2 separate regions of the Homo sapiens genome follow, and region 2 is linked to region 1. The links come from fine-mapping of genetic effects on gene expression. A gene starts in region 1. The other region holds a variant in brackets. All regions are shown on one strand. Distances are from middle to middle.

Region 1 (15,838 bases):
GCCTCCCAAAAGTGCTGGGATTACAGGTGTGAGCTACTGCACCCGGCTTGTTTATATATATTATTTTTTAAATCTCTCAGGGTGTGGGGCAGGGCCTGCCCCACACCCTGAGAGATTTATAATTGGCTCACATGATTGTGGAGGCTGGCAAGTCCAATATCTCCAGGGCAGGCTGGACCCTATTTCCAAATTAAGTCACACTCGGAGATCCTAGGAGTTAGGACTTCAACATATAAATTTTGAGGGGGATACAATTTATCCCATAGCAGTGTTCAATAAATATTTGTTGGAAAAAAAAGGTTTTTCCCCCTAGGTATAATCTGAGCATGTGATCTCCATGTTTCTTTTTTCCCTCTTTGAACTTTCAGTTTTCTGTCATTTCTGACTTTAGGAAGCCAAATGTTGGTTTATGTGCTGTCTAAGCATGGGTGGGGTTGGGTAGCACCCTTATTTTCCCTGATGCATTCATATGCAAACTTTGGTACATTGCATATTCACTTGAATACATTTGAAAAAGGAACAGAGTGAAGCCTATAATTAGTAAGAAGGAGGGAGGAGACAGTGGCAAGCAAGGAGTGGCCCCAGCTTCTGCTTGTTCTTTCTTTTCTTTTCCTTAGTGTTGTGTCTTGGTTTGATTAGCCCCATGCTCTCTGGAGGTAGAACCTCAAATCAACAGTCCTGGGTGGAACAGAAACAGGCTCTTCTCCTCTGGCCTCCCTTGCAGTGAGGAGAGCAGAAAACTGACTTGCTGAGAATAGCATCCCTTAGCAGACAGGACTAAGCTGTCTCCTGGGAGGTTACCAAGTAAAGTGGGCTAATAGTTTTTGGAAAGCCCTTCGTGGAAAAGCAAAATAGTCAAAGAAGATGTTCACAGATGTAAGACCAAAGACTACCTGTGAAAAATAGAAATAATATGGAAATGCGAAAATAATACCCTTGAGCAGAATGGTGTGAAACAAAGTATAAAATACACAGAAATGAGTGAGGAAGGCTGGGATAATATAAAGACAGAAGACTTCCAAATACACCAGAATGAAAACATTTTCTTTAGCTGTACTGATTGGCAGTTATCATCACTAATTTTTTGGCACGAATAAATTGGAAATTTATGTCAGCACCCTTGGATAATAATTAAAAAATATATATTATAGGCCGGGCGTGGTGTCTCACACCTGTAATCCCAGCACTTTGGGAGGCCGAGGTGGATAGATTACCTGATGTCAGGAATTCGAGACCAGCCTGACCAACATGGTGAAACCCTGTCTCTACTAAAAATACAAAAAAAATTAGCCGGGGGTGGTGGGGGGGCGCCTGTAATCCCAGCTACTTGGGAGGCTGAGGCAGGATAATCACTTGAACCCAGGAGGCGGAGGTTGTCGTGAGCTGAGATCGTGCCATTGAACTCCAGCCTGAGCAACAAGAGTGAAACTCTGTCTCAAAAAACAAACAAAAACTATATATATATATATATATATATATATATATATATATATATATATGTTATGCCTAATATGTAGCATAACATGATAATATATAATTGATGTAATTCTTACTCCAGAAATACTTCTATTATTTACAATAAAGGTCCAAGTGTAAGAAGCCTTCGAAGTAACATATTATGGTGTCTATCTAAGCTAAAAGTCTCAAGTCAGGATTCTGATACCCAGAGCAAATCCAAGCACGCTAACCCCTTTACAGAATAGCCTTCCACACGGCTCCGTTTCGCCCATATGCACCACATGAGATGTCAACAGTAGGGTTTTATGCAGCCTAACTTTGGGAGATTATTAAACCCTGGACATTTCCTCCCACCAAATTCCAGACAGGTTATCAGACTGATAGCTGCATTTAAATAGATTTTAAAATGGATCAGAAGAGATAAAAATCACTGGTGGGCCGATTTGACTGATGGAAGTGGTAAAGGGAGTCAGCAGCTCTAGCTGGAGGGGCACTCACCATCTACGGAGGAGTGGGTGTTCACAGACCTGGGCGATTGCTCTTAGCAGGAAGAGTGATGGGAACCAAGGAAAACAAGACCGCAGTGGCTCATGCCGGTCATCCCAACACTTTGGGAGGCCATGGTGAAACCCTGTCTCTACTAAAAATACAAAAATTACCCCAGCATGGTGGCGCGCACCTGTAATCCCTGCTACTCAGGAGGCTGAGGCAGGAGAATCTCTTGAACCTGGGAGGTGGAAGTTGCAGTGAGCTGAGATCACGCCACCGTACTCCAGGGTGGGTGACAGAGCGAGATCCTGTCTCAAAAAAAAAAAGTTTATGGAGTTTATGTAGAGTGGTAGAGTGACCCAAAACTCAATTGAATATACTGGTTTTCCCTGTGTCCAAATCAAACAGAGCCTCCAGAGACCATCACAATTTTACAACCTAACCAAGAGACGGTGCGTGCATGTATGTATGTGCCTAGTGTGTGTGAATTAGGGGAAACATGGAGAAATTGTTTATAATTCTTGAATCTATTCTTTGATGTGTTTCATTATTTTTGGAAAATTCTCATTTCTTGTCTCTTCAAACATGTCTTCTGCTTGTTCTTTCTCGTTTCTCCTTCTAAGATTCTGATAATATGTATGCTAAGCCATTTGATATTGTTTTATAGCACTTGAAGATAATTCAAGTGCTATAAAAATTCAAATTATTTGAAAAGAATTCAAATGATTTTCACTCTTTTTTCTTGTTGTGTTTGTTTGGGTAATTTCTATTGACCTAACTTCAAGGCAATCGATTATTTCCTCAGCTATATTCGTATTGTCAAGGTTATTAATGAGCCTGAAGAAGGAGCTGCTCATCTCTGATACAGCATTTTCTTTTTTTTTTTTTTTTTTTTTTGAGACAGGATTTTGTTCTGTTGCCCAGGCTGGAGTGTAGTGGTGCGATCTCAGCTTGCTTGCGACCTTGGCCTCCTGGGCTCAAGTAATTCTCCCACCTCAGCCTCCCAAGTAGCTGGGACTACAGATATAAGTCACCACACCTAGCTAATGTCTTTATCTTACATAGACACAAAGTCTCCTCACTATGTTACCTAGGCTGGTCTCACACTCCTGGGCTCAAGTGATCTTTTTGCCTTGGCCTCCCAAAGTGCTGGGATTAATAGGCTTCAGCTACTGTTCCTGGCCTGATATTGCATATCTTATTTTTGAAACTTCTATAAAGTCTGTCATGTTTAGTATTTCAGGAAGTCGATCACTTCCACCTTTCTTTTGAAATCCACCCCTGACACCATCTCCTCATGTCTGTTGTCCTTTTTTTTTTTTCATGAGCTCCTTTGACATATGACTCCTGGGCATTTTAAAGTCTCTCTCTTTTATTATAACATGGAGGGCAGCTCTGAGCCTGGTTCCATTGATTACTTTGTATCTTCACAGGATGTTGTTGTCATCTTCTTCTTCTTTTGATACAACTTGTAATTTTTCATTGATTGCCAAACATCTTGTGTAGAACAGGAGAGATTTAAATAAATAGTATTTGTGACTAGAAATGGACACACCTCTTCTCAGGCAGTTAGCTTGGTGGATTGAGTTAATCTAGTTAAAAGGTGAACTGTGCAGGTTTTGTAATTGCCAAGTTTACTTTCGGTACATCATAGGCTTCAAATTCCTTTTGTGATGCCTTATGCTTAGGGTGGCATCTGGAGTGCTGGCTATTTCTCAGTGTTTGTGCCCCACCCTCAGCTCTCGTTCTCCTCTGTACACCACACAGCAGACCCCACAGAGGTCGTCTCTCTGCACGTTCATGCCCTCTGCCAGTGGCGGACTGCTTAGTTACTTGGTGCTCTTGCTCGGGTAATGGTGAGGGGACAGGGTGCTTCTCTGTTGCCCTCTTCATCTTCTATCTTAGGTAGGTTTATATGCCTGGGCCCTGGGGGATGAGTATTTCTGCCCCACTCCTTATGCCAGGCTGCCAAACCCTGCTTTGAATTTGTGGCTGGTCTTGGGTGGGAAAGATTTTTTTGTGCTCCTCCTTCAGTTTCAGGAGACCTCTAAAAGTATTAGCTTAGAACTCTGGGCTCACAATTGCTCCTTGTCCCTCCCTCGGACTAGGGTCCTCCCTGCTCTTCCCTTGGTAACACCTGTGCCCTGGGAGCAACAGTATTTGCCAGTCCTCCCCAGGGTCTTAAGGCTTTCGAGAGAGGAGCATGGGCAGCTGGGGCCTTTTCTGCAATGATAGCAAATACGGTCCTTGATGCCCATAGTACTGAGGGGGCTCTTTGTAGTCTCCCACTTGGCCCCCAGTATTTCCTGTGAACACCTGGTAGAGGTCATGGAAAGGAGCCTGTGGGTAAGTAAAGCCCTCCTTGCTTCTGTGACACCCAGAGGCTCCTTATAGTCACTCTAGTCTGCACTAGGCCTCTAGCAATTTATGAAAAATGTAGCTGCTTTCTTCTTGCATGCTTGTATGATGGCCTAAATACCTCCCATACTCTGGCACTGATGAGACACTCCACCCATCTGGTCTCTGCTCATGAGGATTGCATGTCCTTGAATTTCAGGCTACTTAGCTTACCTGCAACCTCAGCTCAGCTGTTTTGTTTTCTTTTGTTTTGTTTTGTGATGGAGTCTTGCTCTGTCACTCAGGCTGGAGTGCAATGGCGTGATCTCAGCTCACTGCAACCTCCACCTCCTGGGTTCAAGCAATTCTCCTGCCTCAGCCTCCCGAGTAGCTGGGATTACAGGCATGCACCACCATGCCTGGCTAATTTTTTTGTATTTTTAGTAAAGACAGGGTTTCACCATATTGGCCAGGCGGGTCTCGAACTCCTGACCTTGTGATCTGCTTGCCTCAGCCTCCCAAAGTGCTGGGATTACAGACGTGAGCCACCGCCCCCGGCCCAGCTCAGCATTTAGGTTCAACTTTTGGTTTAAGAAAAGTGATTTTGCAGTTTGTCTGGCTTTTTCATATTGTCAGAGAGGGGGCAATGCACTTTCCAGCTTATTTTTATTTTTTATTCTTAGAGACAGGGTCTTGCTCTGTTGCCCAGGCTGGAGTGCAGTGGCACAATCATGGCTCACTGCAGACTTGAAGTCCTGGGCTCTAGTGATCTTCCTGCCTCAGCCTCCCAAGTAGCTGGGCATGTGACACCACACCTAGCTAACTTTTAATTTTTTTTTTTGGTAGAGATGGGGTCTTACTATACTGCCCAGGTTGATCTCGAACTCCTGGCCTCAAACAACCCTCCCACCTTGCCTTCCCAAAGTGTTGAGATCACAGGCTCGAGCCACCAAGCCACACTCTTTCTAGCCTTTCAAATTCCAAGTTAAAGTGGAACTTGCCACATGTCGTTTTGTATCACTTTCCCCAACCCCTTTCTTTTCTTTTTTTTTTTTTTTTTGAGACGGAATTTCACTCTTGTTGCCCAGGCTGGAGTGCAATGTTATGCTCTCAGCTCACTGCAGCCTCCACCTCCCCAGTTCAAGTGATTTTCCTGCCTCAGCCTCCCGAGTAGCTGAGATTATAGGCGCCCACCACCATGCCTGGCTAATTTTTGTATTTTTGGGAGAGACAGGGTTTCGCCATGTTGACTAGGCTGGTCTCGAGCTCCTACGGATCGGCCTCCCAAAGTGCTGGGATTACAGGTGTGAGCCGCTGCACCAGCCCCAACCCCTTTCAATTAGCATTGCAAATAATTCCCCTTATCATGAAAACATTATTTTTAATGGCAGCAGAGTATTGCTTTATATTAACATGACAGTTTATTCAACCGAACTCTTTATGGGGCATTGTAATAGACTTAATGTTTTATGTTTGCAGCTCTTTACACCAACACTTTTCCTACTGTAGTGATTTCTTTGAACAATTTCCCCTCCCCAACTCCCTGTGGTTCTAAAGGGGTGGCCAATCACAGTACCCCATCACCCTGGCCTTTAGGTGGGAGAATGACCCAGGCCCTGCCTATCATACCCTCCTGACTACAGTGACTGATTCAGAGGTGAGCCAGCGAGAGAGGGAGGAACACAGTCCTTCTTCGGGAATTTCTATAACATAGGTGAAAAATTTTGTCAGTTGGGGTCGTGGAGCTGAACGAATATGGCTTGAGGGCTCCCAGCTGCCGTCCTCCCTACGACTTGAAGAAAAGCTTGTGTGCAGTAGGAGAAAATGAACCAATCAGAGACAAGTACACAAGAGAGAAGGACTGGGAGGAGTCGGCCCTGGCTGCACCACGTCTCCACTCCTGGGCTGTCAAGTTTTTCAAGGTGCTCTGGTTCCATAAGCTCATTCTTCCTGTTGGATCCATTCCAGTTACCAAAAACACTTTTTTGTTTAGGCTGGTTTGATATAGGATGATCATTGGTCCCAGAGAGCATCCTGGCTAATCTATTTTATTATTTTATTTTATGAGACAAGTTCTCACTGTTGCCCAGGCTGGAGTGCAGTGGTGCTATCATGGCTCATTGCAGCCTTGAACCCCTGGGCTCAAGCAAATCCTACCATCTCAGCCTCCAGAGTAGCTGGGACTACAGGCGTGCACCACCACACTCAGCTAATTTTAAAGAAATGTTTTATACAGACTGAAACTGCCTTTGCAAAATTGTAACAGGAAATTATGACAGTGCAAGAAGTCAGACCTAACCGACTCTATCTTGCTTCTAACCCTTAAGCTGTCCTTGTTTATTCCTGGGCATAGGCCGAAGTAACTTTGGGAAGGAATTCAGTTCATGGTTTGACTCTGAAACAAAATTGATAACAGCCCTTTCCCAAAAAGACCCCCTTCTTGCCCGGGGTCCAGTCTGCCTTTGTAGGACTAACAGATTAGCTACAAGATTAGAAATTACAGTTTAGAGGCCGGGTGCAGTGGCTCGCGCCTGTAATCCCAGCACTTTGGGAGGCCAAGGCGGGCGGATCACGAGGTCAGGAGATCGAGACCATCCTGGCTGACACGGTGAAACCCCGTCTCTACTAAAAATACAAAAAATTAGCCGGGCGTGGTGGCGGGCGCCTGTAGTCCCAGCTACTCGGGAGGCTGAGGCAGGAGAATGGCGTGAACCCGGGAGGCGGAGCTTGCAGTGAGCCGAGATCGCGCCATTGCACTTCAGCCTGGGCGGTAGAGCCAGACTCTGTCTCAAAAAAAAAAAAAAAGAAATTACAGTTTAGAGGTCATGCAGCCTCTGGCTCCAAGAGTCTGAACCTCCCCAAATTGCTCCTGGGGATAACATCACTGCTGTAAAACCTAAGATCAGTAATTGAGTTATTTTGCAGGCCCTGCACTCCATGGGATCAGCTGACACCACACAGACCAGTCATCTGGCCCAACCAGTTCTGCCATCTCACCCAGGAACAGAAGACATTAAGAAAATCTAACTTCGACCCTCTATGATTCCATCTCCAACCTGAGCAATCAGCACTCCCCACTTCCCAAGCCCCTACCTGCCAAATTATCTTTAAAAACTCTGATCCACGAAGGCTCAAGGATTTAAGTAATAATAAAACTCCAGTCTCCCACACAGCCGGCTCTGCGTGAATTACTCTTTTGCCATTGCAGTTCCCCTGTCTTGATAAATCGGCTCTGTCTAGGCAGCAAGCAAGGTGAATCCATTGGGTGGTTACAAAACGGGGTCTCACTATGTTGCCCAGGCTGGTCTCAAACTCTTGGGCTCAAGCAATCCTCCAGCTTCTGACTCCCAAAAGCTGGGATTATAGGCATGAGCCACTGCACTTAGACTAATTTATATTTTAGGTGACTTCTAAGTATTACCATCATAAAGAACACTGTGGGCTGGGCACGGTGGCTCATACCTGTAATCCCAGCACTTTGGGAGGCTGAGGTGGTCCCTGGAGCTCAGGAGTTCGAGACTAGCCTGGGCAACATGGTGAAACCCTGTCTCTATTAAAAATACAAAACAATTAGCCAGGAGTGTTGGTGCCTACCTGTGGTCCCAGCTACTCAGGAGGTGGAGGTGGGAGGATCGCTTGAGCCCAGGAGGTCAAAGCTGCAGTGGGCTGAGATTGTGCCACTGCACTCCAGCCTGGGTGATAAAGTGAGACTCTACTTCAAAAAAATAAAAAATAAAGAAAAGAAAAAAAAGAAAGAACAGTGTGAAAAAACTCAGTGTTACACTTGTGCATACATGCATGCTGTCCTTTTTTTCCTCATTAAGAAACATTTCCAGAGTAGGAGTTGCTGAGTGAAAGAATATGCAAATCTCAAAGGCTTTGGTGTGTATTACAAAATTGCCATGAGAAAGTTATCCACATTCTATTTTCTCTAGGACTGTGTGTGTCCCTATTTCCATACAGTCACAACAATACTGAGTAGTATTAATTTTTTTTTTTTTTGAGACAGAGTCTCGTTGTGTCACCCACGCTGGAGTAAAGTGGCATGATCTCGGCTCACTGCAACCTCCACCTCCCGGGTTCAAGCGATTCTCCTGCCTCAGCCTCCCAAGTAGCTGGGACTATAGGCACCCACCACTATGCCCAGCTGATTTTTTTTTCTTTGTATTTTTAGTAGAGACAGGGTTTCACTATGTTGGCCAGGCTGGTCTTGAACTCCTGACCTGGTGATCTGCCCACCTCAACCCCCCAAAGTGCTGGGATTACAGGCGTGAGCCACTGTGACCGGCCAAGTTTACTGCTTTTCTATTGAAACTGTTCTCATACCCGTGTTCCCAACTACACCTTAATTGAATAATAAAAGAAAATAAGGACATTAAATGAGAACAGGAATTGGAATGAGACCAGAAAAAAAGGGAGGAGTTCAAAATATGTTCTGAGAGCTTTACCATTATGAATACTCAGCTCTGGTTTTCCCCCAAAACTGGCTGAACCAGTATGGATGTTCCAGGCAGAAACAACTTTAAAGAAGTGAATAGTGGCCCTACCCTGGTCCACCACCTAACCTGGTGGTTACAGAAGGAGGAACACAGTCCTCCTGTGTTCCAGGTGCCAGGAGGTGACTGACTATAGCATCAGTCATCACTGCACACCCTACCTGGAATTAGTATATAAAGCTACGCGGAGCGATCTCTGCCCCTGACCCTGGAAAAATCTGTCTCACCCACAAAGATGTGGGCTCAGCTCCTTCTAGGAATGTTGGCCCTATCACCAGCCATTGCAGAAGAACTTCCGTGAGTGCTTGGTGTCAGAATTGGTTTATTAGGGCAGCGGCTTCTTCGCCTAACTTTCTCAAACATTTATATGGAGATGGGGAGATCAACTTTGGTTTATCTTAATTTCCTCCTCCTTTTTTCTCTTCTTTGGTTCCACTGATCCTTTACCCAGAGAGGGAGGCTGACGCATGAAGAGGAAGCTTTAAAAAAGATAAATATTAAAATGTGCCCTGTTTTCTGAAATAGGCCTAATTTCCTCCTTGGTGCTCTAGGCATGTGTGCTCGGTGAGGGCCTCCTGATGGCGGAAGTTGAAGACTGTGCACTGAGTCGTTGCCCCTCTGCTTCTTGTAGAAAATGAGGTGCATAAGGAAGGCAGGGGCTTGGTCTGTCTAATTCACTGCTACTTGCTGAGCGCTTAGGAGAGTGCTGGATTTTTCGAGTGAATGAATCATTATTGCCCTGAAATCCTTCTGCTCCTTTAATAGAAACTACCTGGTGACATTACCAGCCCGGCTAAATTTCCCCTCCGTTCAGAAGGTTTGTTTGGACCTGAGCCCTGGGTACAGTGATGTTAAATTCACGGTTACTCTGGAGACCAAGGACAAGACCCAGAAGTTGCTAGAATACTCTGGACTGAAGAAGAGGCACTTACATTGTATCTCCTTTCTTGTAAGCACAGACTCAGCCCTCACTCGAATCCCTTACTTGCCTATTCTCCTCCCTAGGCTCACTATAATCTACTTTAAGTATAATTTCTGTTATCTTTTGCCACGGCCTCTAAACCTATTTTTTCTCAACTTAACCTCAATCCCCGGCTATAACTCACCCACGGTTTCCTCGACCTAGGATTTCTCCCTTTAGTTCCTGACCTTAATTCTTCCTCGTGGTAATTTGTTTTATGTCTCTATCCTTGCTACCCCCATCTAACTCAGCTCTTTCCTTTAACTCACTGTTGGGTTGAGACCAGTTGATTCTGTTCCCCCAATCCCTTACCCCTCCCCAGAAGTCCCCTTTCTTGGTCAGGTACCACCTCCTGCTGGTGGCACAGAAGAAGTGGCCACAATCCGGGTGTCGGGAGTTGGAAATAACATCAGCTTTGAGGAGAAGAAAAAGGTTCTAATTCAGAGGCAGGGGAACGGCACCTTTGTACAGACTGACAAACCTCTCTACACCCCAGGGCAGCAAGGTAAGAGTCACATATTTGGGGTTCGACTAAAACCTGGGGAAACCGCTGTGCACAGGGGTAAAGAGGGGATTTGTGGTTTGACAGTAGGCTTTGGAAAAAAAGGAGTGCAGAGGAGAGGAAAATCTGGGGGGATTAAGTAGTGCAAGTGTTGAATACATGCTGCGCTACACAAGCAAGAGAAGTAGGTGGGGGTTGCTACTGAGTTTGTGTATCTAAAACAAAAGTACACATTTCTTCTGGAATAGAATTTGGCAAGTATAACTGGGTTGCTGGGCCTTACAACAAACTGCTTGTAAATGGCTAAGAAAGCACTGAGGGCATTTGGCTTGAGCTACTGGGGTTTTTTTTTTTTTTTTTTTTTTTTTTTGTATTTGTTCATTCGTCCTTACAGGGGCACTTCATTCTGAGATTTCAAAGTCAGGCACCCTGAAAAGAAACTATGTTTGGGTTTTTTTTATTTTTTTATTTAAAATTTTTGTGGGTACATAGCTGGTGTATATATATTTATGGGGTAGATGAGATATTTTTATACACACACACAATGTGTAATCATTACATCAGGGTACATGTGTATCCATCACCTCAAGCATTTATCATTTCCTTGTATTACAAACAATCCAATTATACTCTCTTAGTAATTTTTAAATGTGCAATAAATTATTGTTGACTGTAGTCACTCTTTGTGCTAAAAACTACAAGATCCCTAGATCTTATTCATTCTAGCTAAATATATTTTTGTACCCATTAACCATTCCCACCCCACCCCTCATCCTGCCCACCATTACCCTTCCCAGCATCTGGTAACCATCATTCTGTTCTCTCTCTCTCTTTCAAAAAAATTTTTTTCCTTTTACCTTATTTTTTTCCACACACTTAAAAATTATTATTCTATTCTCTATCTCCACGACTTCAATTGTTTTAATTTTTAGCTCCCACAAATAAATGAGAACATGGAAAGTTTGTCTTTCTGTGTCTGGTTTATTTTACTTAACATAATGACCTCCTGTTCCATTCAGGCTGTTGCAAAGGATGGGGTCTCATTCTTTTTTATGGCTGAATAGTACTCCATTATGTATGTGTACCACATTTTTTAATCCATTTTTTATCATCTGTTCATAGACACTTAGGTTGCTTCCATATCTTGGCTATTGTGAATACTGATGCCATAAACATGGCAGCACAGATAGTCTTTGATATACTGATTTCCTTTCTTTTGTATATATACTTAGCAGTGGGCTTGCAGGATTATATGGAAGCTCTATTTTTAGTTTTTTTCAGAAACCTCCAAACTGTTCTCCATAGTGGTTGTACTAATTTACATTCCCACCAACAGTGTATGAGGGTTCTCTTTTCTCCACATCCTCACCAGCATTTATTATTGTTTGTCTTTTGGAAAAAAGCCATTTTAACTGGGGTGAGATAATATCTCATTGTAGTTTTGATTTACATTTCTCTGACAGTCAATGATTTGAGCACCTTTTTTATATACCTGTTTGCCATTTGTATGTCTTCTTTTGAGAAATGTCTATTCAGATCTTTTTGCCCGTTCTTTAATCTGATTACTAGATGTTTTCCTATACAGCTGTCTGAGCTCCTTATATATTCTGGTTATTAATCCCTTGTCAGATGGGTAGTTTGCAAATATTTTCTTTCATTCTGTGGGTTGTCTCTTTGTTGATTGTTTCCTTTGCTGTGCAGAAGCTTTTTAACTTGATGTGATCCTGTTTGTCCATTTTTGCTTTGGTTTCTTGTGCTCCTTGGGTATTACTCAAGAAATCTTTGCCCAGACCAATGTTCTGGAGAGTTTCCCCAAAGTTTTCTTATATATAATAGTTTCATAGATTGAGGTATTAGATTTAAATCTTTCATCCATTTTGACTTGATTTTTCTATATGGAGAGAGATGAGGGTCTAGTTTCATTCTTCTGCATATGGATATCCAATTTTCCCAGAACCATTTATTGAAGAGCCTGTGCTTTCTCCAGTGTATACACTTGTCACCTTTGTCAAAAATGAGTTCACCCTAGACATGTTTCTGGGTTCTCTATTCTGTTCCATTGGTCTATGTATTTGTTTTTATGACAGTACCATGCTGTTTTGGTTACTATAGCTTTGCAGTATAATTTGAAGTCATGTAATGTGATTCTTCCAGCTTTGTTCTTTTTGTTCAGAATAGATTTGGTTATTTTAGGTCTTTTATGGTTCCATAAAAATTTTATGATTTTTTTTACAAAAGTCCTAAGATTTAGGATGTAGAATTTCTGTGAAGAATGTCATTAGTATTCTGATAGGGATTGCAATGAACCTGTAGATTGCCTTAGGTAGTACGGAATTTTAACAATATCAATTCTTCCAATCCAGAAACATGAAATCTCTTTTCATGTTTTTGTGTGTCCTCTTCAATTTCTTTCATCAGTATTTTATAGTTTTTATTGTTGAGATCTTTCACTTCTTTGGTAAAGTTTATTCCTAGGTATTTTATATTATTTATAGCTATTGTAAATGGAATTATCTTTCTTAATTTCTTTTTCAGATTGTTCCCTGTTGGCATATAGAAATGTTACTGAATTTTTTTTGTTTTTGAGACAGAGTCTCCCTCTGTTGCCCAGGCTGTGGAGTGCAGTGGCGGGATCACTGCTTACTGCAACCTCTGCCTCCTGGGTTCAAGTGATTCTTGTGCTTCAGCATCCCAAGTAGCTGGGAGTACAGGCATGCGCCACCATGCCCAGCTAATTTTTGTTTTTGTTTTTTTGTTTTTTGAGATGGAGTCTCATTCTGCCGCGCAGGCTGGAATGCAATAAATGGTTGCTCATTGCAGCCTCTGCCTCCTGGGTTCAAGTGATTCTCCTGCCTCAGCCTCCCGAGTAGCTGGGTTTACAGGTGAGCGCCACCACCCCTGGCTAATTTTTGTATTTTTGGTAGAGATGGAGTTTCGCCATGTTGGCCAGGCTGGTCTCCAACTCCTGACCTCAAGTTATCCTCCCCACTCAGCCTCCCAAAGTGCTGGGGTTACACGCGTAAGCCACCACGTCTGTCTTCTTGCACTTTTAGGATTCTTTTTTGTTTTTTATTCCTTGATGTTTGGGAGTTTGATTATTAAATGTCTTGAGGTAGACTCATTTGGGCTAAATCTGCTTGGTGTTCTATAATCTTGTAATTAATATTGATATCTTTCTCAGCTGGGCTCAGTGGCTCATGCTTGTAATCCCAGCACTTTGGGAGGCTGAGGTGGGCAAATCACCTGAGATGAGTATTTCGAGACCAGCCTGGCCAACATGGCAAAACCCTGTCTCTACTAAAAATACCAAATTAGCCAAGCAAGGTGGCCTGTGCCTGTAATCCCAGCTACTGGGGAGGCTGAGGCAGGAGAATCACTTGAACCAGGGAGGCGGAGGTCACATGAGCCAAGATCACATTACTGCACTCCAGCCTGGGCAACAGAGCGAGACTGTCTCAAATAATAATAATATTGATATCTTTCTCTAGGTTTGGAAAGTTCTCTGTTATTTTCACTTTGAATAAACTTTCCATCTCATTTTCTCTCTCAACCTCCTCTTTAAAGTCAATACCTCTTTTTTTTTCTCTTTGTTAAATTTATCTGATAAGATTCTGAATTCTTTCTCTGTGTTATCTAAAATTTTGTTGAGTTTCCTCAAAACAGCTATTTTGAATTCTCGATCTGAAAGATCACTATCTTTGTTTCTGGGAGATTGGTTGCTGGTGCCTTATTTAGTTCATCTGGTGAGGTAATTTTTTCCAACATGGTCTTGATGTGGATGTTCATTGGTGTCTGGGCATTGAAGAGTTAGGTATTTATTGTAGTCTTGGCATTCTGGACTTGTTTGTACCTGTCCTCCTTGGGCAGACTTTCCAGGTATTTGAAGGGACTTGGGTGTCGTAATCTAAGTGTTTGGACTCTGCAGTTCATCTGCATTAGGGAGGACCCCATGCTCAGTATCTCTGTGGCTCTTGAAGGCTCATAGAGGTACCTCCTTGATGGTCTTGGATAAGATCTGGAAGAATTCCAGATTACCAGGAGGAGACTCCTGTTCTCTTCCCTTACTTTCTCCAAAACAAACAGAGTTTCTCTCTTTGTGCTGAGCTGCCTGGAGAGAGGGGTGACACAAGCACCCCTGTGGCCACCAGCATTGGGACTGCACTGGGTCAGATCTGAAGCCAGCACCGTACTGTGTCTCACCCAAGGCCTGTGGTAACCAGTACCTGGCTACTGCCCATGTTTGCTCAAGGCCCTAGGGCTCTACAGTCAGCAGGTGACAAAGCCAGCCAGGCTTGTGTCCTCCCCTTCAGGGTGGTGAGTTCCCCATGACCCTGGAAGGTCCAGAGATGTAATCTGCGAGCCAGGGCCTGGAGTCAGAAACCTTAGGAATCTACCTGGTGTTCTGTTCTACTGCAGCTGAGTTGGCACCCAAGCCATAAGACAAAGTCCTTCCCACTCTTCCTTCCCCTTTTCACAGAGGAGTCTCTCTCTGTGGCCACCACTACTCCAGGCCCACAGGAGTACTGCCTGGATACTTCCAGTATTCTCTCGAGGCCCAAAGTCTCCTTTCACCAGCTTGTGGTGAATGGTGCCTGGCCTGGGACTCTCTTTTCAGGGCAGTGAGCTCTCCTCTGACAAACAGCAGGTCCAGAAATGGCATCCAAGAGCCACAGCCCATAACTGGCGACCCCAAGGGCCTGCTTGGTGCTGTACCCCACTGTGGCTGAGCTGGTACCTAAGCTGCAAGACAAAGTCCCCTTGACTCTTCCCTCTCCTTTTCTCAAGTAGAAGGAGTCTCTCCCCATAGTCACCACAGCTGGGAATGTGCTGAATCACTGGAAGCCAGCATGTCTCTGAGTCTCACCCAAGGCCCACGACAAGTACTGCCCAGCTATCACTGCTGAGTATTTAGAGCCCCAGGGGCTAATCGGAACTCAGCTTCCAACCGCTGGGATGGGCAGTTCACCCCTGGCTAACGCTGGTCTAAATGCTCCCTCCATGGGCACTGGCTGAGTTCTGCCCTGTGTGCTTTCCCCTGTGATTGGGCAGCATTGCATTCTAAAGCCAAGTCCCACAGTCACTGTGCTCTCCCGCCCTCAAGCTCATCGATTCTGTCTCTGTACCACAGTCACTGCTGGGGGATGGCGGGGAGGGGGTGAATCAGCAATTCAAGTGTGTCTTTTCTACCCTCTTCAGTGCCTCTTTCAGTGATATAAAGTTAAAACCAGGCACTGTGATCACTCTTCTGATTTTTGGTTCTTATGACAGTGCTGTTTTGCGTGGGCAGTTGTTCAGTTTGGTGTTACTGTGGGGGATGAGGAGGGTGGTCAATGGAGGCTTCTATTCTGCCTCTTGCTCTGCCTCCTGAGCTCCAGGCCTGTGTTTGGACTTTACCTTACTCTCAGAGCAGGTTTTGTAAAAAAGTAAAACCTGTTGGGGTTTTGCTGACTCAGAGCATGTGTGAGGAAGGAGGAGGGATAGAGGAAAGATTCTGAGCAGGAGGCGGAGCGCGGTGGCTCACGCCTATAATCCCAGCACTTTGGGAGGCCAAGGCAGGTGGATCACCTGAGGTCAGGAGTTCATAGACCAGCCTGG
Region 2 (15,838 bases), 43 kb after region 1:
CCTCAGGTGATCCACCCTCCTCGGCCTCCCATACTGCTGGAATTACAGGCGTGAGCCACCACGCCCGGCCCATAGTAGGTACTTATTAAATGATAGCTAATACGTGTTTGTTCAGTGAATGATGATAACTCTTAGAGGGTCCCTTCTTCTCTGTACCCCTACCTTCTCTCTCTCCTTTTGGATCCCAGGAGACATTATGGGCACAGCCCTGCAGAACCTGGATGGTCTGGTGCAGATGCCCAGTGGCTGTGGCGAGCAGAACATGGTCTTGTTTGCTCCCATCATCTATGTCTTGCAGTACCTGGAGAAGGCAGGGCTGCTGACGGAGGAGATCAGGTCTCGGGCAGTGGGTTTCCTGGAAATAGGTAAGTTGGTTCAGTCTTTCTTTCTTGAACACTCTCCTCCACTAGGCCCTATGACAGATTGATGATACAGGGAATTCCAGCCCCTCAAGTGTCCCATATCCTTGAACGGCATGGGGGTGTTTTCTGAAGTTGTCGCTGTGATCTAAAACCACATTTGGCTTCCCAGGGTACCAGAAGGAGCTGATGTACAAACACAGCAATGGCTCATACAGTGCCTTTGGGGAGCGAGATGGAAATGGAAACACATGGTAATATCACCCAATTCCCAATGAGTTCTGTACTCCAGAGCATAATTCCTGAGCCCTCTGGAACTATTCCACTACCTCTCCCCTTAACCCCTTTCCTTCTTGCACTCAGTCTTCTACCTCTTTAATACTGTTTATTTCACCCTCATGGATGGTCAAGTCCCTCGATCTTCCTGAGCTTGTGCCTCCCCTGTTCTTGTCCTCATTGGTGCCCATTAATGCCTCTCTTTTCTAGGCCTGCTATGGCATATGTTCCCTCAGCTCCCCTTCTGGAAGTATACACCCAAATAAATGAAGAAATGATTGCACCCTCACCTGGAAATTCCTCTTCATGCCATATTTTCCTCTTTACCCATGTAGGCTGACAGCGTTTGTCACAAAATGCTTTGGCCAAGCTCAGAAATTCATCTTCATTGATCCCAAGAACATCCAGGATGCTCTCAAGTGGATGGCAGGAAACCAGCTCCCCAGTGGCTGCTATGCCAACGTGGGAAATCTCCTTCACACAGCTATGAAGGTGCGGATCTGTCCAGGAGCCTGCAGCCAACCACTGTCTCGAAGGACCCCACACCTCTGACCGAGTAGAAGCAAAAGAGCACTGGCCTGGGAATCAGTTTTCTCCTGATCTCCACTGTGGCTCTGGGTGACCGTGATCAAAATGCTTAGCTGGTCTGGGCCTCAGTTTTCATGTCTGTAGAATGAGAATACAGATGAAGCCTGGGTGCAGTGGCTCATGCCTGTAATCCCAGCACTTTGGGAGGCCGAGGCGGGCAGATCGTTTGGGCCCAGGAGTTTGAGACCACCCTGGGCAACATGGTGAAACCCCATCTCTACAAAAAAAATATGAAAAATTAATCAGGCTTGTTAGTGCATGCCTGTAGTCCCAGCTACTTGGGTGGTTGAGGTTGGAGGATCACTTGAACCCAGGAGGTCAAGCCTGCAGTGAGCCGTGATTGCACCACTGCACCCCAACCTGGGTGACCGAGTGAGACCCTGCCTCAAAAAGAAAAAGAGAATGTGGACTGGAACATGGTTCTCAAAGCATAGTTCCCAGATCAGGAGCATTGGCATCACATGGGAACTTGTTGGAAACGCAGATTCTGACTCCCAGCCCACACCTACTGAATGAGAAACTCTGGGAGGGTGGGCCAGAAATTTGTGTTTTGACAAGCCCTCCTGATTATTCTGATACACACTGAAATTTGATACTACTGGACTAAAAGATCTCTGGGCCTCTTACTGTGTCACCAAATCCATCTGGGAAAGCCATTTCCTGTGGTGAGGACTAGTAGGCAGCCCAACGTCTTTTGTAAGAAGTTTACTCTATTGGGCACTATTCTAGGCACGTGGTTTATTTGATATTATTTCATGTTTACAACAAATCAATGAGCTAGGTATTGGTATGCCATTATTAATCCCATTTTACAGATGAAGAAACTAAGCCATGGAGACTAAGTAAATTGCCCAAGGTGCATGCTAATAAGTGGCAGGACTGAGATTTGAACCAGGCAGTTGCACTCCAGAGGCACTGCTTTCTTCTGTTCACTACCTTGTCTGTACCTGTCCCAAGCAGAGGGCGAGGCGTAGATCCTGCAGGATAACTTGTTCAATTCAGGACACACTCAGTGCAAGAAAGACTTGTATAAACTTTTCTAGAGAGATCACTTACATTGCTATTCCAGGGCAAGGATTAAAAATCTTGAGTGTTAAAAAAAAAATCTATTTATAGGATTCATTAGTCTTCCTCTGCAGGATCTTATTAGTCTCCCCTAAGTTTTTGTCTTCTTCTTCTCTTATACACTGTATGAAATATGCGTGGGGGCCAGGCGCAGTGGCTCATGCTTGTAATCCCAGCATTCTGGGAGGCTGAGGCGAGTGGATCATGAGGTCAGGAATTAGAGACCAGTCTGAAACCCTGTCTCTACTAAGATAAAGGACTTGACTAGAGCAAGATCTCAGAGGTATTCTTCCTTCTTTCCCTTTTTTTTCTTTTCTTTTTTTCTTGAGACAAGAGTCTTACTCTGTTGTACAGGCTGGAGTGTAGTTGCGCAATCCCAGCTCACTGCAACCTCTACCTCCTGGGTTCAAGTGATCTCAGCCTCCTGAGCAGCTGGGACTACAGGCATGTGCCACCATGCCTGGCTACTTTTTGTATTTTTAGTAGAGATGGGGTTTCACCATGTTTGGCCAGGCTGGTCTTGAACTCCTGGCCTCAAGTGATCCACCCGCCTTGACCTCCCAAAGTGCTGGGATTACAAGCGTGACCTATGCGTGCCCAGCCTCTTCCTACTTTCTTTTGAGAGCAGGCCAGTCCATTGAGAAATCCATCCTCTGTGTAGCCAAGGTTAGTGGTGTGGCACATGAGCTCCAGAGTTAAATGTCCTGGGTTCAAATTCCAGTCCTGCTGCAGATGAGCCATGTAACCGTGAGCAAGCTATTTAATCTTTTTATTTATTTACTTATTCATTTTTTTGAGACAGGGTCTCACTCTGTCACCCAGGCTGAAGTGCAGTGGCACGATCATGGCTCACTGCAGCCTTGACCTCCCCGGGCTCAGATGATCCTCCTACTTTAGCTTCCTGAATAGCTGGGACCACGGATCCACGTGCCACTACACCTGGCTAATTTTTGCAGGTTTTGTAGAGTTGGGGTTTTACCGTGTTGCCCAGGCTGGCCTCAAACTCCTGAGCTCAAGCGATCCTCCCCACCGACTTGGCCTCAAGCTGGGATAATAGGCATAAACCACTGTGCGTGACCACAAGCTATTTAATCTTGTTAAGTGTTTGTTTTCTTATTTATAGAATGAGGATAATAATTTGAGTAGATATTTTTAAAAATTTGCTTAGCTCTTTCTGGGAAAGGCGATAAGCAGGGAAGGTCTCACCTAATCTCTGCTGGAGAAGGGCTGGGTATTGTGCTGCTTGAGGGGAGCTGCATGTGAGGAGGCTCAGATGCGGTGATGCGGCAGATTCTCTCCTTATTCCTCCCTTCTTTAAAGCTCTTACCCTTCCTAACTCCTTCTCTTGGGTTTCTTAAATACCCACTCAGCTGAAGTCCACATGCTGCCTCCTGCAGGCTGTTTAAGGCTGTGCAGTTATGAAGTCCAAACTGTTCCCTCTTTGTGTGTCCTGGAGGCTTGGAGCTGCAGAAAGCCTGTGGAAAAAAGAGCTTTCTTTTCTTTTTTCTTTTTAAAAATTATTCATCTATTCAGAGGGGAGGCTGTTTTGCAATCTGCACATAATTCTTGCAGCTGCTGCCTGCTGCCCTGACTCACTGCCTCCCTGTTTGCCTCTAGGGTGGTGTTGATGATGAGGTCTCCTTGACTGCGTATGTCACAGCTGCATTGCTGGAGATGGGAAAGGATGTAGATGTAAGTTCTCCTGGCTCCTGCTCTTGATACCCTCCTTCTCATGCGTATTCCTAGAGACATTCACCCATCTTTGTCTCTAGTCACCCTTTTAAGGTCAAGAAGGATAAGATGATTTCCTGATTACTTGCCATTTTTAAAGGAATGCCTTATAAGTTATAGTCTTCATCTTCACTTTTTAGGACCCAATGGTGAGTCAGGGTCTACGGTGTCTCAAGAATTCGGCCACCTCCACGACCAACCTCTACACACAGGCCCTGTTGGCTTACATTTTCTCCCTGGCTGGGGAAATGGACATCAGAAACATTCTCCTTAAACAGTTAGATCAACAGGCTATCATCTCAGGTATGTTGGTCCTGTTGAGAGTTCTTTGAAATTGTGAACATAAGCTGTGAGTTATCTATAATCTCCCTAGTAACCTCTGTCCCACACATGTACTCTAGGATTCATTTTAGTAACAGTTATTAAGTCATCAAATTATTGTTGGGAGGTTTGTGAGAAACACACGCAAGTGCTCAAAGGGCATTTTTATACTTTTTTTTCTTTTCTTTTTGAGACGGAGTCTTGCTCTGTTGCCCAGGCTGGAGTGCAGTGGCGTGATCTCGGCTCACTCCAAGTTCCGCCTCCCGGGTTCACGCCATTCTCCTGCCTCAGCCTCCCCAGTAGCTGGGACTACAGGCGCCCACCACCACGCCCGGCGAATTTTTTGTATTTTTAGTAGAGACGGGGTTTCACCGTGTTAGCCAGGATGGTCTCGATCTCCTGACCTCATGATCCACCCGCCTCGGCCTCCCAAAGTGCTGGTATTACAGGCATGAGCCACCACGCCCGAGTTTCTCTCTTCTTGCCCAAGCTGGAGTGCAATGGCGTGATCTCAGCTCACTGCAACCTCTGCCTCCCAGGATCAAGCAACTCTCCTGCCTCAGCCTCCCGAGTAGATGGGATTACAGGTGTGTGCCATCATGCACAGCTAATTTTTGTATTTTTAGTAGAGAAGGGGTTTCGCCCTGTTGACCAGGGTGGTCTCGAATTCTTGACCTCAGGTGATCCACCTGCCTCGGCCTCCCAAAGTGCTGGGATTACAGGCGTGAGCCACCATGCCTGGCCACATTTTTATACTTTTAATGTGAAGAGAAACTACATTGAAGAAGCTAGTCGGAAAATATATTGGCATTGTGGAATCACCCTTTTGGAGATCTTTGAAAGTGCTTTGATGTAGGACCACTTTAAATATTTTTTAAATTTTTTATTTTACTTTTTATTTTTTTGAGACGGTGTCTTGCTCTGTCACCCAGGCTGGAGTGCAGTGGTGCAATCTTGGCTCACTGCAACCTTTGCCTCCTGGGTTCAAGTGATTCTCCTGCCTCAGCCTCCCGAGTAGCTGGGATTACAGGTGCCCGCCACCACACTGGCTAATCTTTGTATTTTTAGTAGAGAGGGGGTTTCACCATGTTGGCCAGGCTGGTCTCAGAATCCTGACCTCAAGTGATCCGCCCCTCTTGGTCTTCCAAAGTGCTGAATTACAAGCGTGAGCCATTGCACCTGGCCTGGACCACTTTAAATATATTTAGAATACTATTTGAAGTATGACAGATCTTGTAAATAAAATTTTAATGCATTTCATTTATCTGGCTGTGTATTTAAAATTATTCTTCCAGGCAGAAGTGCAGTCTCAGCCTTCATTTATATGAGCGTCATGGCTGAGCTGTCCTCTCACAGGGGGTCAGGTAGTTTTTTCTCTTGTGTCTAAGCAACTCCAGTCATGAAATGTGTGTCCGAGACAATGGGTTAAATACACCTGTTCCACCGTGTATTGGTTTATTGTGATGATCTCTTTTCCATTATCTTGTATTGCAAGCTCACGTTTCCTGTTACGTTCTTCCAATTAGATTGCCCTTCTGTGGTTACTTATTATCTCTAAAATTCTGTTTAATTAGTCTTCTAACGTACAGTCTTCTCATTTCTTATTTATTTTTCTTCAAGTTATCCATTATCTGTCATCTTGGCTGTCACAGAGGTTTCTTTTGGTCTCATTCTATTGGACTGCCTTCTAAGCATGTTTCATATAGTTGGCCTCATTAGCATTTCTTCATGGTTTCTCAGAATTCTTTCATATACTCTGCCATTTTTATTCTACTTAAAATGTTAAATCTTTTTTTTTTTTTTGAGACTGGGTTTCGCTCTTGTTTTGTTGCCCAGGTTGGAGTGCATTGGCGTGATCTCAGTTCACCGCAACCTCCACCTCCCGGGTTCAAATGATTCTCCTGCCTCAGCCTCCCAAGTAGCTGGGATTAGAGGCACGCGCCACCACGCCTGGCTAATTTTGTATTTTTAGTAGAGTTAGGGTTTCTCCATGTTGGTCAGGCTGGTCTCAAACTCCCGACCTCAGGTGATCCACCCGCCTCGGCCTCCCAAAGTGCTGGATTACAGGTGTGAGCCACCGCACCCGGCCTAAATCTTTGATTAAATGAAATAAATGCTGAAAAATTCATAAAACTGTAAGCAAACAAAAATTGCCCCCAAACACAGAGATTCTTATAAGAAGCTTCTATTTACCTATTTCCATTAGCATCAAAACTGATAAATTAACAAGGGTGGTTTTCATGTAATTGCTGGAGGCAGGAACATTTATCGATGCTTCTAGCTTTACACACAGGCACGCACATGCATCCTTGCATTTACATCAAGGTCAATTAATCAGCTAAATCTAAGAAATTTTTTTTCTACTCTGTTTAATTCTCAGTTGGTACTTACTCTGCTCTAAGATGCTGCATTTACAAAGTGAATGTGGGAAAGCCAGTTCCTTCTAAGGACATCCTAGTTATGTTTCTTTTTCCATAGGAGAATCCATTTACTGGAGCCAGAAACCTACTCCATCATCGAACGCCAGCCCTTGGTCTGAGCCTGCGGCTGTAGATGTGGAACTCACAGCATATGCATTGTTGGCCCAGCTTACCAAGCCCAGCCTGACTCAAAAGGAGATAGCGAAGGCCACTAGCATAGTGGCTTGGTT[GGC/G]CAAGCAACACAATGCATATGGGGGCTTCTCTTCTACTCAGGTAAACAGCCTGTTCTCCCACTGCCACTTATCAGGTAGAATTAGATCTTGTGTGGAGATAGAGGAAAACATATTGTCCTTGCCTTCTCGGTCCAGGGGCTTAGAGAGAGGAAAAGCCTGTGAACAATATATGGAAGTATTCATAAAATGGGTTATAAGAGCACATTAATAGTACCAGATGTATTTAATTTTCTTTTTTTTTTTGTTGAATGTGAAACATTGGGGCCGGGCATGGTGGCTCATGCCTGTCATCGCAGCACTTTGAGAGGCCGAGGCAGGCGGATCACCTGAGGTCAGGAGTTCGAGACCAGTCTGGCCAACATGATGAAACCCCATCTCTACTAAAAATACAAAAATTAGCCAGGTGCGATGGCAGGTGCCTGTAATCCCAGCTACTTAGGAGGCTGAGACAGGAGAATCGCTTGAACCCAGGAGGCAGAGGTTGCAGTGAGCTGAGATCATGCCATTGCACTCCAGTCTGGGTGACAAGAGTGAAACTCTGTCTCCAAAAAAAAAAAAAAAAAAAAAGCAACATCATGAGGTCCATGTTTTACATGCAAGTAGGATATATATAATTATGGCTAAATGTACATATTAATAAACTAGGAAGACCATTATGGGGTCTGTAAAGATAACACCAAGATTCATGGGCACATATCCTTCTATCCTTCTTCTGCTATTGCAGGTATTAGAAAGCTAATAAGATATAGTCTGAACTCTAAAAAGTTTACAGTCTAGAAGAAAAGCGAGGACAAAGTCTATGTATTACAAAGAGGATCTGGTTTATAATATAAGAAACATGCAAAAGGTACAACATATCGAATTTCAAAATGGGAGAGAAAGCTCATATCAGCTTGAGGGATAAGAAAAGTCTTAGCCGGGCACAGTGACTCACGCCTATAATCCCAGCACTTTGGCAGCCTGAGGCGGTTGGATCACTGGAGGTCAGGAGTTCAAGATCAGCCTGGTCAACATGGTGAAACCCCATCTCTACTAAAATACAAAAATTAGCTGGATGTGGCCCCATCTCTACTAAAGATACAAAAATTAGCTGGATGTGGTGACATGTTCCTGTAGTCCCAGCTACTCGGGAGGCTGAGGCAGAAGAATTGCTTGAACCCGGAAGGCAGAGGTTGCAGTGAGCTGAGATCGTGCCACTGCACTCCAGCCTGAGTGACAAAGCAGCACTCTGTGTCAACAACAACAATAAACAAAAACAAACAAAAACAACAACAAACAAAAATTTTTTAGGCTGGACACAGCAGCTCATGCCTGTAATCCCAGTGCTTTGGGAGGCCGAGGCAGGCGGATCACCTGAGGTCGGGAGTTCGAGACCAGCCTGACCAACATGGAGAAACCCCATCTCTACTAAAAATACAAAATTAGCCAGGCGTGGTGGCGGGTGCCTGTAATCCCAGCTACCTGGGAGGCTGAGGCAGGAGAATCGCTTGAACCCGGGAGGCAGAGGTTGCGGTGAGCCGAGATGGCGCCATTGCACTCCAGCCTGGGCAACAAGAGTTAAAACTCCGTCTCAACAACAACAACACAACAACAACAACAACAATTTTAACTTTGTTTCAGAAAGATTAATCAGCCACTTGGTGTGTGAGATAATTTAGAGAGGAGAAACATTGGACTTGAAGAGATCAGGAGACTGTTTCCTTTATCTAGGTTAGGGGTAAGGGGAAATTGGGAAATTGAATGAGTGGTGTGGCAGTATGGAAAAAACAGAGGGGTAGAATTGTATGATAAACTCAAATCATAAAAAATTATTTTAGATTATAATGAAGAGAGTAGTCATTAATCTATGTATTCTGAAAATATTAAATATCTACCATGTCCAAATCACTTTGATGAGGCTACAGAAATAACTAAGAAAATATATTTCTTGTTCTCATGAAGATTATATTCTGATTTGTTGAAATTAGCCAATTTCACTGAAGATATAACATGTAAATCAGACCTGAAAGAATGAACATCTTTTAATAGGTTGCATGTTTGGTAAAAATGTTAAAAGCACCAAGTTTAGGCCAGGTGTGGTGGCTCACGCCTGTAATCCCAGCACTTTGGGAGGCCGAGGCAGGTGGATCACGAGGTCAGGAGATCGAGACCACGGTGAAACCCCATCTCTACTAAAAATACAAAAAATTAGCCGGGCACAGTGGTGGGCGCCTGTAGTCCCAGCTACTCGGGAGGCTGAGGCAGGAGAATGGCGTGAACCCAGGAGGCAGAGCTTGCAGTGAGCCAAGATCGCGCCACTGCACTCCAGCCTGGGAGACAGAGCAAGACTCCATCTCAAAAAAAAAAAAAAAAAAAAAAAAAAAGCACCAAGTTTAAATATGGTAATGACTTAATTGAAACTTAAAAAAATTATATGGTACTATGCCTCCCTGTTTCAGGGAAATTCTTGGCCAAAGATCACAAAATACTCCTTCTTGCTCGGTCCTGAATAATTATAATATATAATAATATTTTTGGAAAGCAGTGGGTGAAATGTTTACAACTCTCAGTGACAGGTATATGTCAGAATCCTTTTTCAATGAAATCCTTGGCTATCACAAGAAGTCATATATCATATATTACCCACACTGGTTTTTCAGCTGACAGTGAGGTCCCTTTCTTTGAATTGTCTCCATATGTTCAAGCAGTAAAAAACCTCCCTGGCTCCAGTCCACAAAAGGTAAACAAAAATTGTTTGTAGATGGTGAAGCTGCACAGATAGAACTTCTTCACAGCTTCACCAGGGTGGGTGACCTGTCTTCCTGTTTTGTAGGACAGTGATAATGTCGAAATAAGAATGTATTTTTCATTTGTGAGATGAAGAAATCGGGTTTTTTTTTGTAATAGATATTTTTTGTAATAGATATTTTACACGAGTGAGATATAACAATTTTGTTGAACACTTCATTCATTTTTCTTTCCCCTTGTAATTTATATGAATTATGTTTTCAGAATGAAACAGTTCAAATATCACTGTACCATGCTCACTTAGTGACAGTTTATCTGTCTTATTCCCAGAGAAATAAAAGATTGTCACATGGTATAATGGCTAAGAAGCCAGCCTGCAGGGAAGGACTTTCCTAGGGTCCCTTATACTCCTTCCAACTGTCATGTAGAAGATCATTACACAGTTAAATGACTTCATAGACTGCAATTTCTAGGGCTATCAAGTTACTACTGTTTCTCCCCCAAATAAGGAAGCTGTAAAATATATACTGAACAATTATCCACTTGCTTCTAGCAATAACTCATTCTGAAACTGTTGGTTTCTGAACATGAATTGATTAGGTTAACCAAGTAATCTGTGGATGTTCAGTAGTACCTTGTTGATGGTGATTTTCTATAAAAGCATGCTACTGGCTGGGTATGGTGGCTCATGCCTGTCATCCCAGCATTTTGGGAGGCCAAGGCAGCCGGACCACCTGAGGTTGGGAGTTCAAGACTAGCCTGACCAACATGGAGAAACCCCTTCTCTACTAAAAATACAAAATTAGCCGGATGTGGTGGCACACGCCTGTAATCCCAGCTACTTGGGAGGCTTAGGGAGGAGAATCACTTGAACCCAGGAAGCGGAGGTTGCAATGAGCTGAGATCGTGCCATTGCACTCCAGCCTGGGCAACAAAAGCAAAACTCCATCTGAAAAAAAAAAAAAGCAAGCTACTGTGATTTCTAGGCCAGCTTCTCCAGAGGAGGTGGGTATAGTTCTCTAAATACTTAAAGAAGTCATCATCCAAGCCAACTAACAACAACCAGATGTGTGGGTTATAGAGTTGTTCAAGGTTAATTCCAATGGCTCACAAAATGGTAAGTATACGTTTGGTTGTTTCCCTCAGGATACTGTAGTTGCTCTCCAAGCTCTTGCCAAATATGCCACTACCGCCTACATGCCATCTGAGGAGATCAACCTGGTTGTAAAATCCACTGAGAATTTCCAGCGCACATTCAACATACAGTCAGTTAACAGATTGGTATTTCAGCAGGATACCCTGCCCAATGTCCCTGGAATGTACACGTTGGAGGCCTCAGGCCAGGGCTGTGTCTATGTGCAGGTAAGTAGAGATCCATGAGAATGAGCGGACATTGGGAAGGAGAGTCGGAGAGCATCTTCCCCTTAGGCCTTCTCTCTCTCTTTCTTTCTCACTTGTAAGAAAAGTAGTTTGAACTGTACAATCTTTAAAGTTCTTTCCAAGTCTGATTTGGCTACCTATTTCTTCCTACCAGACGGTGTTGAGATACAATATTCTCCCTCCCACAAATATGAAGACCTTTAGTCTTAGTGTGGAAATAGGAAAAGCTAGATGTGAGCAACCGACTTCACCTCGATCCTTGACTCTCACTATTCACACCAGGTGATTAAAGCTGGGGTGCTGGTGGCCGGCAGAGCACCTGGTCATAGGAGCTGAGCTGGGACACTTGTGTGTGTGTGTGTCTGTGTATGTGTGTGTGTACGTGTGTGTGTGTGTGTGTTGGGGATGCAGAGTGCACTGAAGTAATAGGCTCACATGTGTTTTCTTCTTCCTGCTCTCAGTTATGTGGGGAGCCGTAGCTCTTCCAATATGGCTATTGTGGAAGTGAAGATGCTATCTGGGTTCAGTCCCATGGAGGGCACCAATCAGTTAGTAAGTTACTTCTGTTTTCTTCATTTATCTAGCTGTGAGGGGACCTAACGTTATAATTTAAAAAACTGGTAAAATGGGCATCATGGCGTGTATACACACACACACACAAGGCATGTATATACATACATATATATGTATGTATATGTATGTACACTTGTAAGAAAAGTAGTTTTCATATATATATATGGCATCCATATACACAGTATGTGATTATATATATGTGTGTGTATACATATGTAGGTATATATACATGTATATATGTGCATGTATGTACATATATGTGTGCATATATGTATATATTCATACACACAAACTCATGATTGGATTATTTAAATGGGCTGCAAGGTTGTAGCAGATATATGACATGCAACTTGTAATAGTCTTGGTTCCCTTTTCCTACCTTTTCCACAGTATATATTGTTTCCTTGATCATGGCAGAGCTTTGGAAGACTACCCCAGGGAAGGCTCTGGCTCTTAGTATCTTTTTTTTCTCCCTCTCTTATTCAGCTTCTCCAGCAACCCCTGGTGAAGAAGGTTGAATTTGGAACTGACACACTTAACATTTACTTGGATGAGGTAGGTATTCAGGAACCAGATCAAAGAGCTGGATTGCTTACGGATCTTCATGACTTCCCTTCTAATCTGTATATACGGGTGTCACACACATGGGGATGAGGGGCCTGGGAGTGAGTCCACACCATGCCATGAGTTCTGCCTCCATGCTGGTATACCGTAAAACACCCCATTGTGCCTCTAGAGGAGCCCTGTCCAACAGACCTATAATGTGAGCCGTTTACGACATTTGAAGATTTCTGGTAGACACATTTAAAAAGTATAGAAACAGATGAAATTAAGTTTAACGGTATATTTTATGCAAGCTTATACACCCCAAATATTTCCATTTTACCATACAATTAATATACAGACGTATTAATGAGATATCTACATTCTTTTTTTTTTTCTGTACCACATCTTTGAAATCCAGTATGTACTTTACACTGTCAGTGCATCTCAATTCTGACTGACCTCATTTCAAGTGCTCAATAGCCACAAGTGACATTGCAACTCTAGAGTATGTTATAGTGGTTAATAGCAGAAGCTCTGAAGCCAGACTGCCTGGGCTGTGATCTTGGTTCTAGCATTGACTGAGTAACTGGACAAGCTGTTGAAAGTTAGCTGTAAAATGTGTGTGGGTAGGGGTCAAAATAGTTCTTTTAGAGTTATAGAAAAAACTAAATTATTTAAGACATGTAAAAATATTTAGAACTGTACCTGGTATAGAGTAAGCCCTCATCACTTTATAGCTATTCCTATCATTTTAACATAATGTTAATATTACTTAATATTAATCAGACATTGTATGTAACCTTTCATTTTAACAAAACAAGAAGTTCTCAAGGACTAACAATGTTCTAAAGATTGTTACAATGTTCCTTTTCATGATATTCCATTCCACACAAGGAACAAAGTTATCCTTATTGAATATAACCAAAAGACAAGAATATCCCAAATCAAAACATACTGTTGTTAGTAACATCCATTTCCAACCCCCTGCCCACCCACCAACCCCATCATCTAACTGTGTTTCCTGTCTTCCAGGGAGCCAGGGTTTTTTATGTTGTGTGAGCCGTGTATAGTTTCTTTTTTCTTTTTTTTTTGAGACGCAGTCTCGCTCTGTCACCCAGGCTGGAGTGCAGTGGCACAATCTCAGCTCACTGTAAGCTCTGCCTCCCGGGTTCATGCCATTCTCCTGCCTCAGCCTCCCGAGTAGCTGGGACCACATGCGCCCGCCACCATGCCCGGCTAATTTTTTGTATTTTTACTAGAGACAGGGTTTCACCGTGTTAGCCAGGATGGTCTCGATCTCCTGACCTCGTGATCCACCCACCTCGGCCTCCCAAAGTGTTAGGATTACAGGCGTAAGCCACCGCACCCAGCCGAGTTGTGTATAGTTTCTTTTGAGACAGCTCGGGTTAGCTTATCTGGCACTACCCTGTAATCATGATGTTGCTGTTTAAAACTTTGCCAAGTTTATGATGCTTTCATACATGACTTATTCAAGTCTTACAGCCACCCTCCTTAGACATAAGGAGACAGAGTTGGAGAGAGAGAGTGGGTTGTCCAAGTCATACCATCTGTCAGTGTCTAGGGTGGGAGCAGAACCTGGGGAGTCTGATTTCCATGACACCATGCCTGAGACTGCAATGAACTGCTCCTCAGTGTGTCCTGCCAAATCTGCCAGTTGGCTTCTAATTTGAGTTAACAGGCCTAATGATCTAAAAGCCAGTGCTAATCATTGTATCTGTGGTTATTTCCTCTTTTCTGTGTGTCTTCTCCCTTGTGTTCTTGATCAATTTCACCAGAGGATGACCTTATTCACATATATAGTCTTCCTTATTTTTTGATGAACTTACACTATAAGCGTCCCTCTAGGTACATGCCATCCCTCTCCCACAATCTCAGACAAGCAATGTTTTTACTGTCATTCAGTTCTAACTATTTCTTAATTTGTTGGGAAACACATGGAATTTTTAAAGCCATCCTTTTGTTCCTGATGTCTAATTTTGTTGCATTATGGTCTGAGAATACAGTCTTCATGATCCTGATTGCCTGGAATGTGCTGAAGTTTCTTCCATGACCTAATCCATGATCTGTTTTTGCAGGTGTTCAGTGTGCACTCCAAAAGAACATCTATTTCTTTTCTCTTGGGCTTGGATTCTGATCTAGAAGTCTGAGATCATTATTTCTGTTGTTCATGTGTTTGATAACTCTGCTTATTTTTCTGCTTGATTTAACAATTTCTGAAAAGCATGTGTTAAAATATCCAATTATGATGGTTTTTGTTTGTTTGTTTAGTATTTTTTTGGTAGAGACAGCGTTTCACCATGTTGGCCAGGCTGGTCTTGAACTTCTGACCTCAAGTGATCTGCCTGCCTAGGCCTCCCAAAGTGCTGGAGTTATAGGTGTGAGCCACCACGCCTGGCCTCTAATTATGATATTTGATTTATCCATTTATCCATACATTTCTGCCAATTGTTTCCTGATATATTTGAGACTACATAATTAGATATATATGTTATGAACATATCTTCTTATTAAATTTTCCTTATATTAGTACATACTATCCTTTCCCCATTACTATATATGTGTATATATTTATATCATTTACTTTTGCCTTAGATTCTTACACTCCCCCACCGCCACACACACACACACAATTTTTTTCCCTTGCCTTGGGTGCCATTTAGTCAGATATTAAAACTGCTACCTGGCCGGGCGCAGTGGCTCATGCCTGTAATCCCAGCACTTTGGGAGGCTGAGACGGGCAGATCATGAGGTCAGGAGATCAAGACCATCCTGGCTAACACAGTGAAACCCCGTCTGTACTAAAGGTACAAAAAGTTAGCTGGGCGTGGTGGCAGGAGCCTGTAGTCCCAGCTACTCAGGTGGCTGAGGCACAAGAATGGCGTGAACCTGGGAGGCAGAGCTTGCAGTGAGCCGAGATTGCGCCACTGCACTCCAGCCTGGGCAACGGTGCAAGACTCCATCTCAGAAAAAAGAAAAAAAAAAAAAAACTGCTACCCCAGCTTTCTTTTGGTTCATATTAGTCATTTGCTTTAATTCATTATGGTGACCAAATGATAGAAAAGAACAGTGGTTCTAAAAATTCTTTGTTTCAGTGTCCCTTTATACTCTTAATTTACTGAGGACCTCAAACAGCTTTCGGTGAAGTGGGTTTTAACTATTGGTCTTTATCATATTAGAAATTAAAACTGAGACAATCTTAAAATATTTATTAATTAATTTAAAAATGATAATAAACTCACTACATCTTAATATAAATAAAATTTTTGTGAAAATAACTATTTTCTGGCCAGGCGTGGTGGCTCATGCCTGTAATCCCAGCACTTTGGGAGGCCGAGGCGGGTGGATCACGAGATCAGGAGTTCGAGATCAACCTGGCCAATATGGTGAAACCCCATCCATCTCTACTGAAAACACAAAAATTAGCTGGGCATGGTTGTGCGTGCCGGTAGTCCCAGCTACTTGAGAGGCTGAGGCAGAAGAATCGCCTGAACCTGGCAGGCAGAGGTTGCGGTGAGCCGAGATCATGCCACTATACTCTAGCCTGGGCAACAGAGTGAGACTCCATCTCAAAAAAAAAAAAAAAGAAAAAGAAAAAGAA

Evidence for each region.
Region 2: its variant is fine-mapped to the expression of A2ML1 in esophagus mucosa (GTEx, PIP above 0.99). The same link has a PIP of 0.9 or more in amygdala, anterior cingulate cortex, caudate, cerebral cortex, iPS cells and nasal epithelium.

The regions. Positions count from the first base shown.
Region 1 is chr12:8,813,637-8,829,474 of GRCh38, forward strand. A2ML1 (alpha-2-macroglobulin like 1) reads left to right here and starts at 8,985. Exons shown (of 36, transcript NM_144670.6): 1 at 8,985-9,077; 2 at 9,546-9,729; 3 at 10,084-10,246. The coding sequence starts at 9,016. All of the region lies in intron 1 of A2ML1-AS1 (A2ML1 antisense RNA 1), which reads right to left. RefSeq lists enhancers at 791-1,317, 14,734-15,476 and a silencer at 5,737-6,031.
Region 2 is chr12:8,856,976-8,872,813 of GRCh38, forward strand. It overlaps A2ML1 (alpha-2-macroglobulin like 1), which reads left to right. Exons shown (of 36, transcript NM_144670.6): 24 at 189-365; 25 at 532-613; 26 at 971-1,127; 27 at 3,906-3,980; 28 at 4,160-4,322; 29 at 6,819-7,033; 30 at 10,867-11,082; 31 at 11,255-11,382; 32 at 11,562-11,652; 33 at 12,160-12,228. Among named protein-coding and RNA genes, the nearest start is that of A2ML1-AS1, 34 kb to the left of the region's middle. The variant GGC/G (reference allele first, on the strand shown) is at 6,991.